3 separate regions of the Homo sapiens genome follow, and regions 1 and 2 are each linked to region 3. Evidence: fine-mapped expression QTL. A gene starts in region 3. Each other region holds a variant in brackets. All regions are shown on one strand. Distances are between the middles of the regions. Region 1 overlaps TRPM6 (transient receptor potential cation channel subfamily M member 6). Region 2 overlaps TRPM6 (transient receptor potential cation channel subfamily M member 6). Region 3 holds the start of TRPM6 (transient receptor potential cation channel subfamily M member 6).

What was found. PIP is the estimated chance that this variant, and not a neighbour inherited with it, causes the effect. A credible set is the group of variants that fine-mapping cannot tell apart.
Region 1: its variant is the best candidate, but not a certain one, in a credible set for the expression of TRPM6 in whole blood (INTERVAL, PIP 0.69).
Region 2: its variant is the best candidate, but not a certain one, in a credible set for the expression of TRPM6 in whole blood (TOPMed, PIP 0.66).

What each region holds. Positions count from the first base shown.
Region 1 is chr9:74,810,906-74,816,133 of GRCh38, reverse strand. It overlaps TRPM6 (transient receptor potential cation channel subfamily M member 6), which reads left to right. Exons shown (of 39, transcript NM_017662.5): 12 at 3,701-3,835. Among named protein-coding and RNA genes, the nearest start is that of TRPM6, 74 kb to the left of the region's middle. The variant T/A (reference allele first, on the strand shown) is at 3,135.
Region 2 is chr9:74,844,925-74,850,154 of GRCh38, reverse strand. All of the region lies in intron 3 of TRPM6 (transient receptor potential cation channel subfamily M member 6), which reads left to right. It also overlaps the pseudogene RNY4P1. Among named protein-coding and RNA genes, the nearest start is that of TRPM6, 40 kb to the left of the region's middle. The variant G/C (reference allele first, on the strand shown) is at 2,210.
Region 3 is chr9:74,885,418-74,890,647 of GRCh38, reverse strand. TRPM6 (transient receptor potential cation channel subfamily M member 6) reads left to right here and starts at 2,727. Exons shown (of 39, transcript NM_017662.5): 1 at 2,727-2,824. The coding sequence starts at 2,792. RefSeq lists an enhancer at 3,341-3,635.

The DNA.
Region 1 (5,228 bases), 75 kb after region 3:
TGATCTTGCTACCTTGGTCTCCCAAAGTGCCAGAATTACAGGCGTGAGCCACTGTGCCTGGCGTACAATTTTTAATTTATTTTTGGGTAGATTTCTATCTTGTTATTTAAAACTCAAAGTTTACTTTTTGCTTTAAAATGTAGTAGGTGCTCACATTAGAAATTAGTGAAAACATAAAAAAGAAGAAAGATTACCCATAATGCTAATGATAATCACTATTAACATTCATTTTAAAAGATTATAGTTGTGGCTGTATTACAGGTATATTATTTTTGGGCCAAGCTAATACATGCACATTGTTTAAAATATCAAATGATATTAAAAGGCAATTTTAAAAGATGGTAGTTCTCTGCCCTGCTAATCACAAGAGCTAGTACTTAAGATGTTTTTGATTTTTCTAACACTTATAAATCTCCATATTTCTAAATAATGTCATATTGCTATATTTTGGTTCATTTAGTTTCAGAAATTTTTCAACACTTCTGTCTTGTGGGCCTCACGGCTGCAATGTGGACCAGTTTCCTTCTCCTCCTGGTGCACAGCTGTCATCCCGGGATGCACCCTCATCATCTTGGGGATTCCCTTGCCTCTTTCCCATGTTAGAGGGCATGTCTTCTATGTCCTTGTCTTCCTCTTTGTTTACTCATTCATTTTGATGGTATACATGTGTCAATAAGTTCCTGAGAAAGGGAGTATGAGAGATACATATTTTGAGGACTTACATGTTTGGGTGTATTTTAATTCATGATTTAAACTATTTTTTCCTACAGAAATTTGAATGCCTAGTTTCCAGCACCCAGAATTTCTATTGAGAAGTAAACACTTCTTTTTTGTTTTCAGATTCTTTGTCACCATTTTTTTTTCCTATCTGGAAGTTAAAAAAATCTTTCTTTTCCAGTGTTATGCTGTGTGTTGTTGTGAGTCTCTGTATCCATTTTGTTGGGCACATGATTTCAACTTGGCAATCATATGTTTTCATTGCATTCCATTCCCTTCTCTTCCGTAACACCCCCAACCTTTGTTCTCTTTTGTAATTCCTATTATTTGAATATTGGACCTTATGGACTGCTCCTCTAATATTCTTATCTCTTTCCTCCCATGTTCCCTATCTTTCCTTTGGTAGCTTTGCTGGACTTTATTTTTTTATTTTAATTTTAATAATCAATTAACTAATTTATTTATTTTTGAGATAGGGTCTCACTCTGTCACCTATACTGGAGTGCAGTTGCATGATCTCGGCTCACTTCAACCTCCACCTCCCACACCAAGCAATCCTCCCACCTCAGCCTCCTGAGTAGCTGGGACCACAGGTGTGTGCCACTACACCAGGCTAATTTTTGTATTTTTAGTAGAGACAGGGGTTTGCCATGTTGGCTAGGCTGGTCGAACTCCTAGGCTCAAGCAATCCACCTGCCTCAGCCTCCCAAAGTGCTGGGATTATAGGCTGAGCCTCAACTTTAATTTTCAAGCCTTCTATGAAGCTTTTCTTTTCTGGTAGCATACTATGAATCTATTAATTTCTTCTTTTTTTAGTTTTTAATTTTTGTGTGCTCACAGTGGGTGTATATATTTATGGGGTGTCTGGGATATTTTGATACAGGCATACAATGTGTAATAATCACATCAAAGTAAATGAGGTATCCATCCCCTCAAGCATTTGTCCTTTGTTACAAACAATCCAATTATAATACTTAATTATTTTAAAATGTACAATTAAATTATTATTGACTATAGTCATTCTGTTGTGCTATCAAATACTAGATCTTATTCATTCTTTCTAACTATTTTTTGGTACCTATTAATTATCCCCCTTATCCCCCTCAGTACTCTTCCCAGCTTCTGGTAACCATCCTTCTGCTCTCCATCTCCATGGATTCAATTGTTTTCATTTTCAGCTCCTACGAATTATTGAGCACATGTAAATTTGTCTTTCTATGCCTGGCAGTCTATTAATTTGTGACAGCAAACTTGCTCCCTGATTGCACCCTCCCCTATGTTTTTCATTAGCATCCAGAATCCAATATTTTCTTTTTCTTTGAGATGGAGTCTCACTCTGTGGCCCAGGCTGGAGTGCAGTGGTACAATCTTGGCTTATTGCAATGTCCACCTCTCAGATTCAAGCAATTCTCCTGCCTCAGCTTCCCGAGTAGCTGGGATTACAGGTTCCTGCCACCACACCTGGCTAATTTTTGTATTTTTAGTAGAGATGGAGTTTCACCATGTTGGCCAGGCTGGTTTCGAACTCCTGACCACAGGTGATATGCCTGCCTCAGCCTCCCAAAGTGCTGGGATTATAGGCGTGAGCCCCTGTGCCCGGCCCAGAATACGATATCTTCTTTTACCTTTTTGAGGATATGAATGAGAGCTCTTTTGAAGTTTTCTTCTTCTTGGATTGTCTGCTTCCTGCTAGTTGATGTTTTTTGATCTGTTTGTTTTGGTCTTTTTGTTTAAGTGTAGCGGATAAAAAACTCTTTGGAAATTCCGAGCCTGTAGTTGGAGGTTGCCTATAGGTTTGAGTTTCACAGTAGGGTGATCTGACTGCCATTAGTTCAGGGGCCCCCAGATACCAACATATTCATGTCTTTTCTCTTGTATTGGTGACATTATCAGAAAAGAATCCTCTAGTTCCCTGACTGGAAGGTGTAAGCCTTGTTGCTAGTGTTATGGGACTCAAAGGGGAAAGATGACTGGAAAGACCCCAACATTAGGGATTCAGCATGTATACATGTATTTTGTTTTTGTTGGAATTCTGTAGTATAAATCTGTTTGTCTCTTGACATTTTCCACTTCTACTATTTGGCTTTCTGGTGACTGCTCAGTCAATTATGACTTGACCATCTGCTTTCCAGCTTCCAAAATGTTGCATTCTTGTCTCCACTCTTGTCCTCCTTGTCCTTGTAGATTTATTTTGTAACAAAAATCCCTTTACTGTAGTTTTAATGAAGTTTTGAGTGGGAGAAAAATTAGATGAGCATGTTCAACTTGCCATTTGTGCCTAGAAGCCAGGTAGAGTCTAAATGGACACATGACAAGTAACAAAAACAAAAGAAGAAGAAGAAACCTTGAATGTCTATCAGAATTGCATTAAGCCTGTACATTCATTCATTTGGGAAGCTTCGAGATCTTTACAATAA[T/A]CAGTTTTCCCATCCAAGTACATGGGATGTTCTTTGATTTATTCAAGATGTCTTCACTTAAGTCCTGCACATTTCTTAGTAAGACTATTTATTCATTCATTCATTCATTCAAGACAGGGTCTTGCCCTGTTGCCCAGGCTGGAGTGTAGTGATGCATTCATGGCTTACTGCAGCCTTGACCCCTTGGGCTCAATTGGTCCTCCCACCTCAGCCTCCCAATTAGCTGGGACCACAGGTGCATGCCACTATGCCTGGCTAATTTTTGTATTTTTCGTAGAGACAGGGTTTTGCTGTGTTGCCAAGGCTGGTTTGGAACACCTAAACTCAAGCAATCCACCTGCCTCAGCCTCCAAGGGTGCTAGGATTACAGGTGTGCGCCACTGAGCCTGGCCTAGTAAGACTGTATTTAAATTTTTTCCTTTTTTTTTTTTTTCTGTACCCACTGATGGCAGGATTTTATTTTAAAATTATTGTGTTTGTGTAATTTTGAGTTCAAAAACATGTAATTCTTTAGTTATTTCTACTTTCTTAATTGTCTTTATATTTCTTATTTGTGCTTTCTGAAGCCTGATGCCCTGGAACAAGCAATGTCAGATGCTTTAGTGATGGATCGGGTGGATTTTGTGAAGCTCTTAATAGAATATGGAGTGAACCTCCATCGCTTTCTTACCATCCCTCGACTGGAAGAGCTCTACAATACAGTGAGTATGGAACATTTCATCAATCATTTCCCTCCAGATTCAAGAAGAGCAAGGATCATCAAGCAGACCATGCAGAGGCAAAACTCCTTATCTGAGGAAATTAGAAGTAGCTGGACTTCCCTATTATCTGAAGCTGGATCTAGTTCCAGGCTTCTTTCCCCAACATTTATAAGTAACTAGAATTTCTGTACATCTTCAAAATGCATACATGTTAAAACTCATTGTGCAACCCTTCCTGACATGAAGGCACCAAAATGGCTACAAATGCAATCATTTATCATGACCTACATGGCTAACATGGTTCAAATTACCCTTAAGCTCCCACTTTAAGGTCCATAAATACTCCTGAGGAAAATCCACTGCTGTGAGCTCAGTTCTCTCTTGCTGAAGCTCCCTTCTGCACTCTTCTCCAGCATTCTTTCCTTCTAATAAAACGTTCCTTTTTCAAAATCTATACTGTTGTCAGTAAATTATTCTTACTACCTGCAAGCCAGTCACTTTCCATTGCCAGGGGTCTGACACCTTGCCTGGTAATTATTTATTGATCAGCTTAAGACTTATTTATCTCCTTGAATATTCTTGTACAAAGATAGTTTATAGATAGACTCTTCAACCAAAGGAGAAACATTCTTACCAATTCTATTTTATCCTAGTAAAACATAGTTAAAGACTAAATTGTGAATAAGAACAAATTACCTTTTATTGAGTTATTGGAAGTATCTCAACCTAAGGCCACTATTAAAATACTGTTCCTGTACCTTTCCCATGTAAACCCTTTGTTGAAACTAGCCTGACTTACACACTGTGAAAACACCAATTGCTCAAGCCATGGACACTTCTTGAAATAGCCTTCCTTGTCCTTTAAATCTTATTCTTTCTTCAATGATTTATTCAAGTCTTGTCTTCTTGATTACTGCAGTTAGTTCACAGTGATTTGTTCCTAGAGTACCAATTATTTGTAACTCTTTTTGAGCCCACACATATTGTTGGTTATTTTTTAGTGTAAGTAGCCACTCTTTTCTATTATTATAAACACTCCAGGAAAATAGTGCTTATATTTGTCATTGAATCCCTAATTGAATATAGTAAGTATTCAATAAATATTTGTTGCTGGAATGTGCTCGTGTGATAGGATTTGTAATTGTATGATAAAGGATAGTAATAAATTACCTAAGATTCATTTCTATCTCTTATCACATAAAGTCTTTATTATCTACATATTTGCATCTTGCTTTGAAAAATATTTCATATAAATACATCTTCTCTTGGAAAACACCTTCTTTAGAATTAATTGGCTTAAGCATTGTTACTAAAAATATTGAACACAATTTTCAGTATTCTCAGTTACTTATGCATTCTGAAGTAAAGGTTTTACCCCCCAGCACATGGTAAT
Region 2 (5,230 bases), 40 kb after region 3:
AGTGATCCGCCCGCCTTGGCCTCCCAAAGTGCTGGCATTACAGGCGTGAGCCACTGCGCCCAGCCCTGTTCTAGTTCTCTGAAGAGATTGTAAGTTGTAGACACTTCTGTTTCCCCTGTAACTTCTCACCATGTGCTACTTCATATGCTGCTCAATACAGCAGATGCACAATAAGTATCCTTAGCCCACTGATCACCTCTTTCAGAGCAGGGTCCTGCAACACTGAGCATTGCTACAGGTTCTCAGTTACACAATGAAAGGAAATGGAAGGCATTAGAGACCACCTTGTCCAACCAATCCTTACATTACTGCAGTTGAAGAAATAGAGGCTTTGGGAGAGTAGAGATTTGCATGACGTTGGCCATCTCCTGGTCCAGTGCTTTTGCTCCAGGACACATCGCTTCCTAGATGCTTCCTGTTTATGGCCTAGGCTGCCTGCACTTCAGCTCTTGTTTTTGGTTCCCCTGCTTGTCAGGTACAATCCACTGTTCTATAGCCAGGATTTTAGTCACCTAGAGCTACCATAACAAAATACCACAAACTGGGTGGCTTAAACAACAGAAATGAACTTTTCACAGTTCTGGAGGTCAGAAATCCAAGACCAAGTTGTTTGCAGGGTTGGTTTCTCTTGTGATCTCTCCTTGGCTTGCAGATGGCCACCTTCTTATTGTGTCTTCAGATGGTTTTTCTCTGTGTGCACACATCCTGGGGATCTCTCCTTCTTCTAAGGACATCATTTCTATCAAATTAATCCTTCATCCTTATGACTTAATTTAACTTAACTTTTTTTTTTTTTTTTTTTTGAGATGAAGTTTCACTCTTATTTCCCAGGCTGGAGTGCAATGGTGCAATCTCAGTTCACTGCAACCTCCGCCTCCTGGGTTCAAGCGATTCTCCTGTGTTAGCCTCCCGAGTAGCTGGGATTACAGGCACCTGCCACCACACCTGGCTAATTTTTTGTATTTTTAGTAGAGATGAGGTTTCGCCATGTTGGCCAGGTTGGTCTCGAACTCCTGACCTCAGGTGATCTGCCCACCTCGGCCTCCCGAAGTGCTGGGATGAAAGGCGTGAGACACCGTGCCCTGCTGAATTTAACTAAACTTTAAGGAGGTAATTAATGCAGTCACATTAGGGGTCAGAGCTTCAGCATATGAATTTTGTCAGAAAACAATTCAGTCCATAACAGCTAGCCACATTTCTCCACCATGTACTCAAATGTATTTGTCTCTATTGTCTCTTTGGAACATTTTGGAAATTGAGCTCTGGCCCTGTCTAGATTTCTTTACGTTTTTTTCTTCTCACTGTATGTATTTGTCATCAGATAAGCAGATATATAGAAGTTAAATATAACATTTACTAATGTATACTGCACCTTACGTAGTCCATGGAATTAATTGTGCATCAGAATATAGACACAGAAATTTAGAATGAAAAGCTGTCAAGAAGAATATTGACTCTTTCAGGCGGGGCATTGCAGGCATTACTATCTAGCTGGAGGCAGGGCAGTTGAGGAAAACTGTGGACCAGGATGCAATTTTTAATTAAAGAAGGTTTAGAAATTTGGAAGGAGTAGTCCCACCTTTTCTGCCATTTTACCTTCCATTGTTTCAGTTTCTCATGGGCCAAAAAGATTAAATAGAAAATCCCAGAAAAAAAGCAATTTATGGGTTTAAAATTGCGTGCCATTCAGAGTGGCATGATAAAATCTCTTGCCATTTGCTTTGTCCAACCTAGGACACGAATCATTCCTTTGTCCAGCCTAGCCATGCTACAGACGCTCCCCACCCGTTAGTGGCTTAGTAGCTGTCAGGGTTATCTGATTGACTGTCTTGGTATTGCAGTACTTGAATCCAAGTAACCCTTCATAATGGCTCCAAAGTGCAAGAGTAGTGATGCAGGCAATTTGGACATGCCAAAGAGCCATAAAGTGCTTTCTTTAAGTGAAAAGGTGAAAGTTCTCAGCTTAATAAGCTAAGAATAAAAGTTAGCTGAGGTTGCTAAGATCTGTGGTACAAATCCATCTTCTATCCATGAAATTGCGAAGAAAGAAAAAGAAATTCATGCCAGTTTTACTGCTGTACCTTCAGTTGCAAAATTATGGCCACAGGGCCATAATTTTGATAAATGCTTAGTTAAAATGAAACAGTCGTTGCATTTGTGGGTGGAAGACATGAACAGAAACCTGTTCTGATTGACAGCAATTAGGTTT[G/C]GTACTATCTGCGGTTTTGGGCACCCGCTGGAGGTCTTGGAACATATGCCCTGAAGGTAAGGGAGAACTACTGCTACATATATATTTTTTCTTGAGACGGGCTTCATAACTTCATTATTTATCTATTTTTCAGAATTCCTGAGTGTAGGCTTCATAACTTTAATCAGAGACACAAAGTTACTTATGGGTCTTAAAATCAAGAATGACAATGGTTTAGAGTATACTTTGTCTTTGACTATATATGACTATATATATATGACTTTGACTATATATGACTATATATATGACTATATATATGACTGTATATGACTATACATATGACTATATATATGACTATATATATATTAAAGCCAGTCAAATTTAGCAGTGGGGGGTTGTATACCAACTTTAGTGACACTAATGTTAGTAAGTTCTGATAACCTACTACCATCAGAGCAGCCTGCCTTTGACAATATTGAATGCAAATTAACATCTTAAAATAATGATTAAAAATCCCAGCACTTTGGGAGACTGAGGGAGAAGGATTGTTGGAGCCCAGGAGTTCAAGATCAGCTTGGGCAACATGGCAAAACCCCAAATTAGCCGGACGTGATAGTCGTTGCCTGTAATTCCAGCTGCATGGGAGGCTGAGGTGGGAGAATTGATTGAGCACGGGAAGTTGAGGCTGCAGTGAGCCATGGTCACACCACTGCACTCCAGCCTGGGTGACAGAGTAAGACCTTATCTCAAACTAAACAGTGAAAATTTTAAAAAGTGAGAATGTTATAATAATTTAAAAAAATTTTTTTACAAAGGAAATGTGTCCTTGCTAGTACTTGACATTGTCAGCCATTTTCAGTTAAAACTTGATGGTGTGTGAATAGCAGCACCTAATTGTGAAAAGACCATTGTTGGCTTGCAGAACACCTCGTCTGTGTACTCAAGGTAGCAAAGGAATAATGTCATGGTGGATTAGTGCATGGAGCCATGTGTGGTTTGTAGACTCATAGGACTGATGACTAGGCTTTTTGGAACGTGTAAACAAACCCAAGTCTGAAGATTTTAATAGATGAAGATAATTTCTTAAAAGTGTGCTTTTTAGAAAAATATTGTAAAATAGCCGGGAGCAGTGGCTCACGACTGTAATCCCAGCACGTTGGAAGGCCGAAGTGGGTGGATCACCTGAGGTCAGCAGTTCAAGGCCAGCCTGGGCAACATGGTGAAACCCTGTCTCTACTAAAAATACAAACAAGTTATCCAGGCGTGGTGACACACCCCTGTAATCCCAGCTACTTGGGAGGCTGAGGCAGGAGAATTGCTTGAATCCAGGAGGTGGAGGTGGCAGTGAGCAGAGATCATGTCACACTGCATTCCAGCCTGGGCAACAGAGAGAGAGACTCTGTTTCACAAAAAAAAGAAAAAAAATTCTAAAATATCGATAAGAAAAATGTTTTCAGTTTTTAAAGTTCCTGCTATACCTATCTAATTCTCATATAAAATGTGTCACTGAAGTTCATACCAGAAAACAATATAATTGTTTTAAATGAGAATTAGGTATAGCAAGAACTTTAAAATAATATGATAGGGCCGTTCTTGCAAAGGAGGTACATAAATGTAGAAATATGAATTTCCCTTTAAGAAGAGAATGAGCTTTAATTATAGGGAAAAAAAAGAAGCAAACAATTTGCGCCTTAAATGTCTGTTCATGTACTGGGCCATAAATTGACTTGTTTGTATTGACAAGAAATCTAAAGAAAACAGAAATTTAATATCTAGGCAGCTAAGCAGAATCAACTTACCTGATCAACTTATCTGTTGATTAATCAAGGTTAGGTGAAAGTCACAGTAGGAACTGTACTCAATTATTTATAATAAATGACAAATTTTCTCTGCTTCTTGATATTCATTTTGAAGAGATAAGAACTCTCTTGATGTCAAATTGATTTCCTAGGGAGGATATTTTTGTTTATTTTTTACGTAAATTTTTTTTAAATCATCCATCCCAAAATGTCAGAGAGGCTCTTATTACTCATCTAAATTATAACTCTTTCCCTCTACATTTGTATTTTTGTTAGTTTTATTCAACATGTTGTAGATAATGCATAAAATGATAAATTATTCTTACTTTTCGTTTTGTTTTGAGACAGAGTTTTGCTTTGTTGCCCAGGCTGGAGTGCAGTGATGTAATTTCGGCTCACTGCAGCCTCTGCCTCCCAGGCTCAAGTGATTTTCCTGCCTCCCTAGTAGCTGAGATTACAGACTTGCTCCACCACACAGGGCTAATTTTTTATATTTTTTTGTAGAGACAGGGTTTTGCTATGTTGCCCAGGCTGGTCATGAACTCTTGGCCTCAAGCGATTCTCCCACCTCACCCTCCCAATGTGCTGGAATTACGGGCGTGAGCCACTACCCTTGGCCTGTTTATCTTTTTGTGATTGGCTTCTTTTAATTAGCATAATGTCTTCAATGTTTTTCCATGTTATAGCATATGTCAGAATTTTCTTCCTTTTTAAGGCTGAATCATATACCATGGTATTTATATACCACATTTTGTTTGTCCACTTCTCCACGATGGACATTTGGGTTGCTTCCACTTTGTGGATATTCAGAATAATGCTGCTATGAACATGAGTATGCAAGAGATTTTTAGTACAGGCATACCTCATGTATGTTACTTTATTGTGCTTTACTGATATTGCATTTTTTATAATGTGGAGGTTTGTGGGAACCTTGCATTAAGCAAGTCTGTCAGTGCCATTTTTCCAGTGGCACATGTTCATTTCTTGTCTCTGCATCACATTTTAATAATTCTCGCAATATTTCAAACTTTTTTATTTTATCATTATTGTATCTGTTATGACAATCTTTAATCGGCGATCTTTGATGTCACTATTGTAATTGTTTTGGAGTGTCATGAACTGCACCCATATAAGATGGGGCAAACCAATTAGATAAATGTTATATATGTTCTGACTATTCCACTGACCGATCCTGTCTCTCTCCCTCTACCTTGAGATGCCACAGTGTTGAAATTAGGCCAAT
Region 3 (5,230 bases):
CAGTTACTGTGAGTGCTCACCTGATTTTTGGTTCTTAGAAAGGTGCTTTTTTTGTGCGTACATAGTTGTTGAATTTGGTTTTCCTACAAAGGGGATGATCGGGGCCTTCTATTCCACCTTCTTGCTCCACCTCTTCCCAGTTTCATTTTTGATTGTTCATCTTCCTCTTATAAACTTGAGCTACTTGTAGACTGGACAATGTCTTATTCATCTTTGTTTTCCTGGTGCCCAGCATGATGCCTGACAAACAGTCTATGTTCAGGAAATATTTGTTGGCCTGAATCAAACCACACTAGACTACTAATGAATATTTTAAAATTTAATTTTCACAGCTACCCTGGGCATAGGTATGTTTGTGCCCAGAATAGTTTTCTTTTTATTTATTTATTTTTTGAGATATGGTCTTACTCTGTTGCCCAGTCTGGAGTGCAGTGGTGCCATCATAGCTCACTGCAGCCCCGACCTCCTGGGCTCAAGCAATCCTCTCACCTCAGCCATCCAAGTAGCTGGCACCACAAGTGTAAGCCACCACGCGTGGCTAATTTTTGTTTTTTTTTTTTGTACAGATGGGGTTTTGCCATGTTGACCAGGCTGGTCTCGAAATCATGAGTTCAAGTGATTCTCCTGCCTCGGCCTCCCTAAATGCTGGGATTACAGGCATGAGCCACCATGCCTGGACAAGAAGTTTTATATACAAGTTTGACAACTGATTAAAGTGCTTGTGAAAGATACAGATTCCTGGGCCCCACCCTATAAATCCTGATACAAGAGATCTGGGTAGGGTGGTTGGAGCCTGGGAATCTGCACTTTTGACAAATGCCTCAGATGTTTCTGATACAGCTTGGGAACCAAAGGCAGCTTGTAAACTAGTACATTCAATGCTTTAAGCACTTCACATTGCCCTTGTATTTCAGGCTCTAAATGCCTTGAAGCTTGATCTGAAAAGAATATATGATCATCCTAACATGTAGGTTTACCAAAGATGGTAAACTAGAAGATGGTAGACTTCTTACAAATCTTGAGTTCCAAATGGCTACTCTTCTTGGTGGGTCTGAAGATTTCTGAGAACTCTCTGACCCAGTCACTGTAAGAGACCTAACAAAGAAATTGTATGGAAGACAGAGATCGAGAAGGATTTACTTGCCTTAGAAGAGCTTTCAGAACCTGTTAACTGTTTACAGATTAACGCTTTAAAGAAGATGGGTTAAGGAGAGGAAAGGAGATTAAATGTGTTTATAGAAGAACAACAAATGCCTAGCACTTAGGGAGGCTGAAGTGGGTGGATTGCTTGAGTTCAGAAGTTCGAGACCAGCCTGGGCAACATGGTGAAACTCCGTATCTACAAAAATTACAAAAATTAGCCAGGTGTAGTGGCTTGCACATGTAGTCCTAGCTACTTGCGGGGGCTGAGGCTGGAGGATTGCTTGAGCCCAGGAGGTGGAGGTTGCAGTGAGCCGACATAGTGCCACTGCACTCCAGCCCGGTGACAGAGCGAGACCCTGGCTCAACAACAACAGCAACAACAACAAAAAGAAAAACAACAAAATGCCAATACACATATGAGAGATTACAATTTTCCAATAAACAAAGAAATGCTTATTAAAACCACATTGAGAAATGAGGGGAAAAAACCTGTAAACTGTCTGCAAATGTGAATTCACCAGGCAAAAATTCATAATAAACTAAATGAGTAGGTGTCCCTAATTTTAAGTCGGTTGTCAGGGATGAATGACTAGCATTGTTAATTACACTTGTAATAATGTGAGCATCATTTTGCCTGTGTGCTTTGTGCCACCTCTGCCAACACCCTGGGATCCACCCCAAATCACTGACCACAACCTTAATCAAGACTGCCTAGGCCGGGCATGGTGGCTCACGCCTGTAATCCTAGCACTCTGGAAGGCTGAGGCATGAAGATCGCTTGAGTCCAGAGTTTGAGACCAGCCTGGGCAACATAGTGAGACCCCATTTCTAAAATAAATAAATAAATAAATAAATAAATAAATAAATAAATAAATAAAATTAGCCAGGCACTGTGGTGTGTGCCTGTAGTCCCAACTACTCTCTGGAGCCTGAAGTGGAAGGATCACTTGAGCCTGGGAGGTCAAGGATGCAGTGAGCCATGATCCTGCCACTGCACTCCAGCCTGGGCAACAGAGCAAGACTCCATCTCTAAAAAAAGAAGAAAGAAAGAAAGAGAGAAAGAAAGAAAGAAAGAAAGAAAGAAAGAAAGAAAGAAAGAAAGAAAGAAAGAGAAGATGCCTATCCAGAGGAATCCACCAAAACAAAACAAAACAAACAAAAAAAATGAAAAAAAAACCAGAAATAACAAAACATTTGTATTGTATGTTACACATGAAGCACATTAAGTGATTTCCTTTGTTCATTGTAACCTTGTGAGGGAACTGGATTTTTGTCCCTATTATTCCCATTGCATAGATAAATAAACTGAGGCTTGACATGCCCAATAAGTCACAGGTAGTAAAAGCAGTGCGTTAGCTTAAATCTCTGATCTCCTCACGCCCCACACTGACTCAACAGTAACAATACATTACTACAAAGGATGTCTGTGATGACAGTGGCCATCCCATTTGATCCTCGTTATTCTTCTTTTATCGAAGGAAACTGAGAGTCACCTTCTTTTCTAGGCAGTTAGGTAACTGAAGCCGAAAGGTATTGTGACAGATCCACTGGGCTGTAAAAGGCAGCGTGTGGAGGTGGAGCCCAGAGTTTCTGCCTCCACAGTTAAAAGCTCAGACAGGGCTTTGGGAGCAGGGCCTGCAAATCAAAGATGAAAGAACAACCTGTCTTGGAGCGCTTGCAGGTAAGCTCAGGCTGCTCGACTGGCGGGGAACAAGGACCTTAGGCGATTCGCTAGATCTGCGCCCCCGGCCTTAGATAGAAGTGGGTGGGGCCAGGGACACTACATCTAACGAGGATCTAGAATAGCTAGGATTTATGAAATACCGGCTTTCAAGTTCTCTGGTCTCCACCCAAAGATGATTATCCTATCTAAGGTAGTGTACGCTACTACAGGGCAGGTCCCGCAGCCCCCGTTTCAAGAGCTGGGATGCGGCCATAGCGGAGGTGGTGTCAGAGCGGAAACCTAGCGGGGGTCGGGGGTTCAGCTCGGGGCGGTGGGAAACACCCCGGGAGAGGAGGCAGCTCTGATTCCGCTCCGGGCCGGAGGGAGAGGAGTTCGGAGGTGGCTTGAGCTGAGAATCCGGAGGAGAGAAGGCGCGTTTTGAGCTGCCACGGGCACAGATCTCAGACCCGGACGCTGACTAGCCGGGGGTCGCGGCTTTCCGAGGCGGCTGGAGAAGTGCCCAGACGGCCGTCCCTCCGCGCCCCTGCGCGTCCCCGTGCGCCCAGTGTTCCCCGTGCAGGAGTCCCGGAGCGATGACAGCGCCGGTTACGGTAAACACCCGCCCCGCCGCAGTCCGCTTCCTTCCCCAACGCGGCGCCGCCCGGACTTGCAACCTCAGGAGTCCCCGCTGGCTCCTCTCCACCGCTGGCATATGGCGCAACAGGAAGTTCTGGGGGCTTGGAGAGGGAGGGTGCTCCTGGCTGTTGGGAGAGCACTGGAGACGCTTGGGAGAGTAGTGGAGATCCTGGTAATTTCTTGGTCTCGCCTATTTTGTCTGGACTTTCTCACACTGTGTATGAAAAATAAGTATAATTGAGCACATTGTATTTCAGGAATAGTCCAGGCAGCTTAGCAAACGTTAGCTCATTTCAGCCTGCTCTGATAAGAACATATGCTCTGGAGCCAGGTAGCCTGAATTAGCATCCCAGCTGCATCACTACCTGTGATTTTGGGCGAGTTAACATCTGTTCTTCGGCTTTCTCATCTGGAAAATGGGATAATACGATTTGTAGTTTCAAGATGAATTGAAATGCTACATGCCATTTGCACTTAGAATAATGCCTGACGTATTTAGCAGGTTGTAAGAGTTTGGGATTCTTAACTATTTCATCCTGGCAGTAATCCTATAAAGTCCAAGTATCCTGTCTCTCCCATCTCCACCGGTTTACAGGTGAGGAAAATGAAACCAAAGGAGAAAAGCAGATTTGAGATTTGAACTCAGGTCAGTGCTTTAAGACACGGAGAACATAAAAAAGAAAAAAAAAAAAGAGAAAAAAAGACACTGAGAACATAGATGTTCTAGTCATACACATCATTTGTGATTATTTGTTCTAGGGAGAAATGATCACCTTTAATTGTTAAAGTGGGAAACGAGTTATTCAATTTCTTTCCCCCTGTATACAGATTTTGATGTTTCACTGTCATCTGCTTTGGGTTCTTACAGGACTGATAAAGCGTTAGCTATTTTGGCCAGACTGGAATCTGGGCTTGACTTTAAGAATCTGGTTGTTTCTTATGTTTCCCACCAGGAGTGGTAACCATCTAGGGTAGGAGTTAGCATGAGTTTTGTTTTTTGGGCCAAAACTGGAGACTAGTACCCTTTGGTAGTGTTAAACTTGTCTTGATAGACAAGGGCATGAATAGCATTTGAGATCATTATACCAGAGGTGAAGGGAAAGAATCGTGCAATATGTTGCAATTTGTCACAAATTTTGGTCTTATCTTGCCTATTTACAATTATCTATCATAGTTAATTTTTTGGATAGGACATCTATGCCAAAACTATCAAGCATTTGGTAAATACTGTGCCTGAAATATGGCTTCTCTCTTTTTCCTTCTTTTTCAAATTTCTCACTTTTTATTTTATTTTATTTTTTTGAGACAGAGTCTCGCTGTGTTGCCCAGACTGGTCTTGAACTCCTGGGCTCAAGCAATCCTCTTTGGCCTCCCAAAGTGCCAAGATTACAGGCCTGAGCCACTGTGCCTGGCCTCACTGTGTTTTAAATCATGAGTTTTCAGTATAAACAGCCCAAATAATCTGAGTGATTTTCATTATACTTCTGGTAGAATCAATACCATGCTGGAACTGAAAGTGACCATCCTACCTATAACTCAGTTATTCCTTTGTGACACATCAGAAGTCTACATGGCAACTATTTTCTGTAAAATCCATCACTGTTAGGTAAGATATTATGATGTGAGTCTCACTAGTGCCTTTTTTCTTTACTTCTTAGTTTTATTGAAGTTTTACGTTCTCATTGTTCAGAATCAATTAATTCCATAGGGTTAATATCTAAAAACAGTAGAACCCTCCATCACTTCCTGCTTTTTAAGAGAAGTAATCATGTTCATCTCTTTTAACTA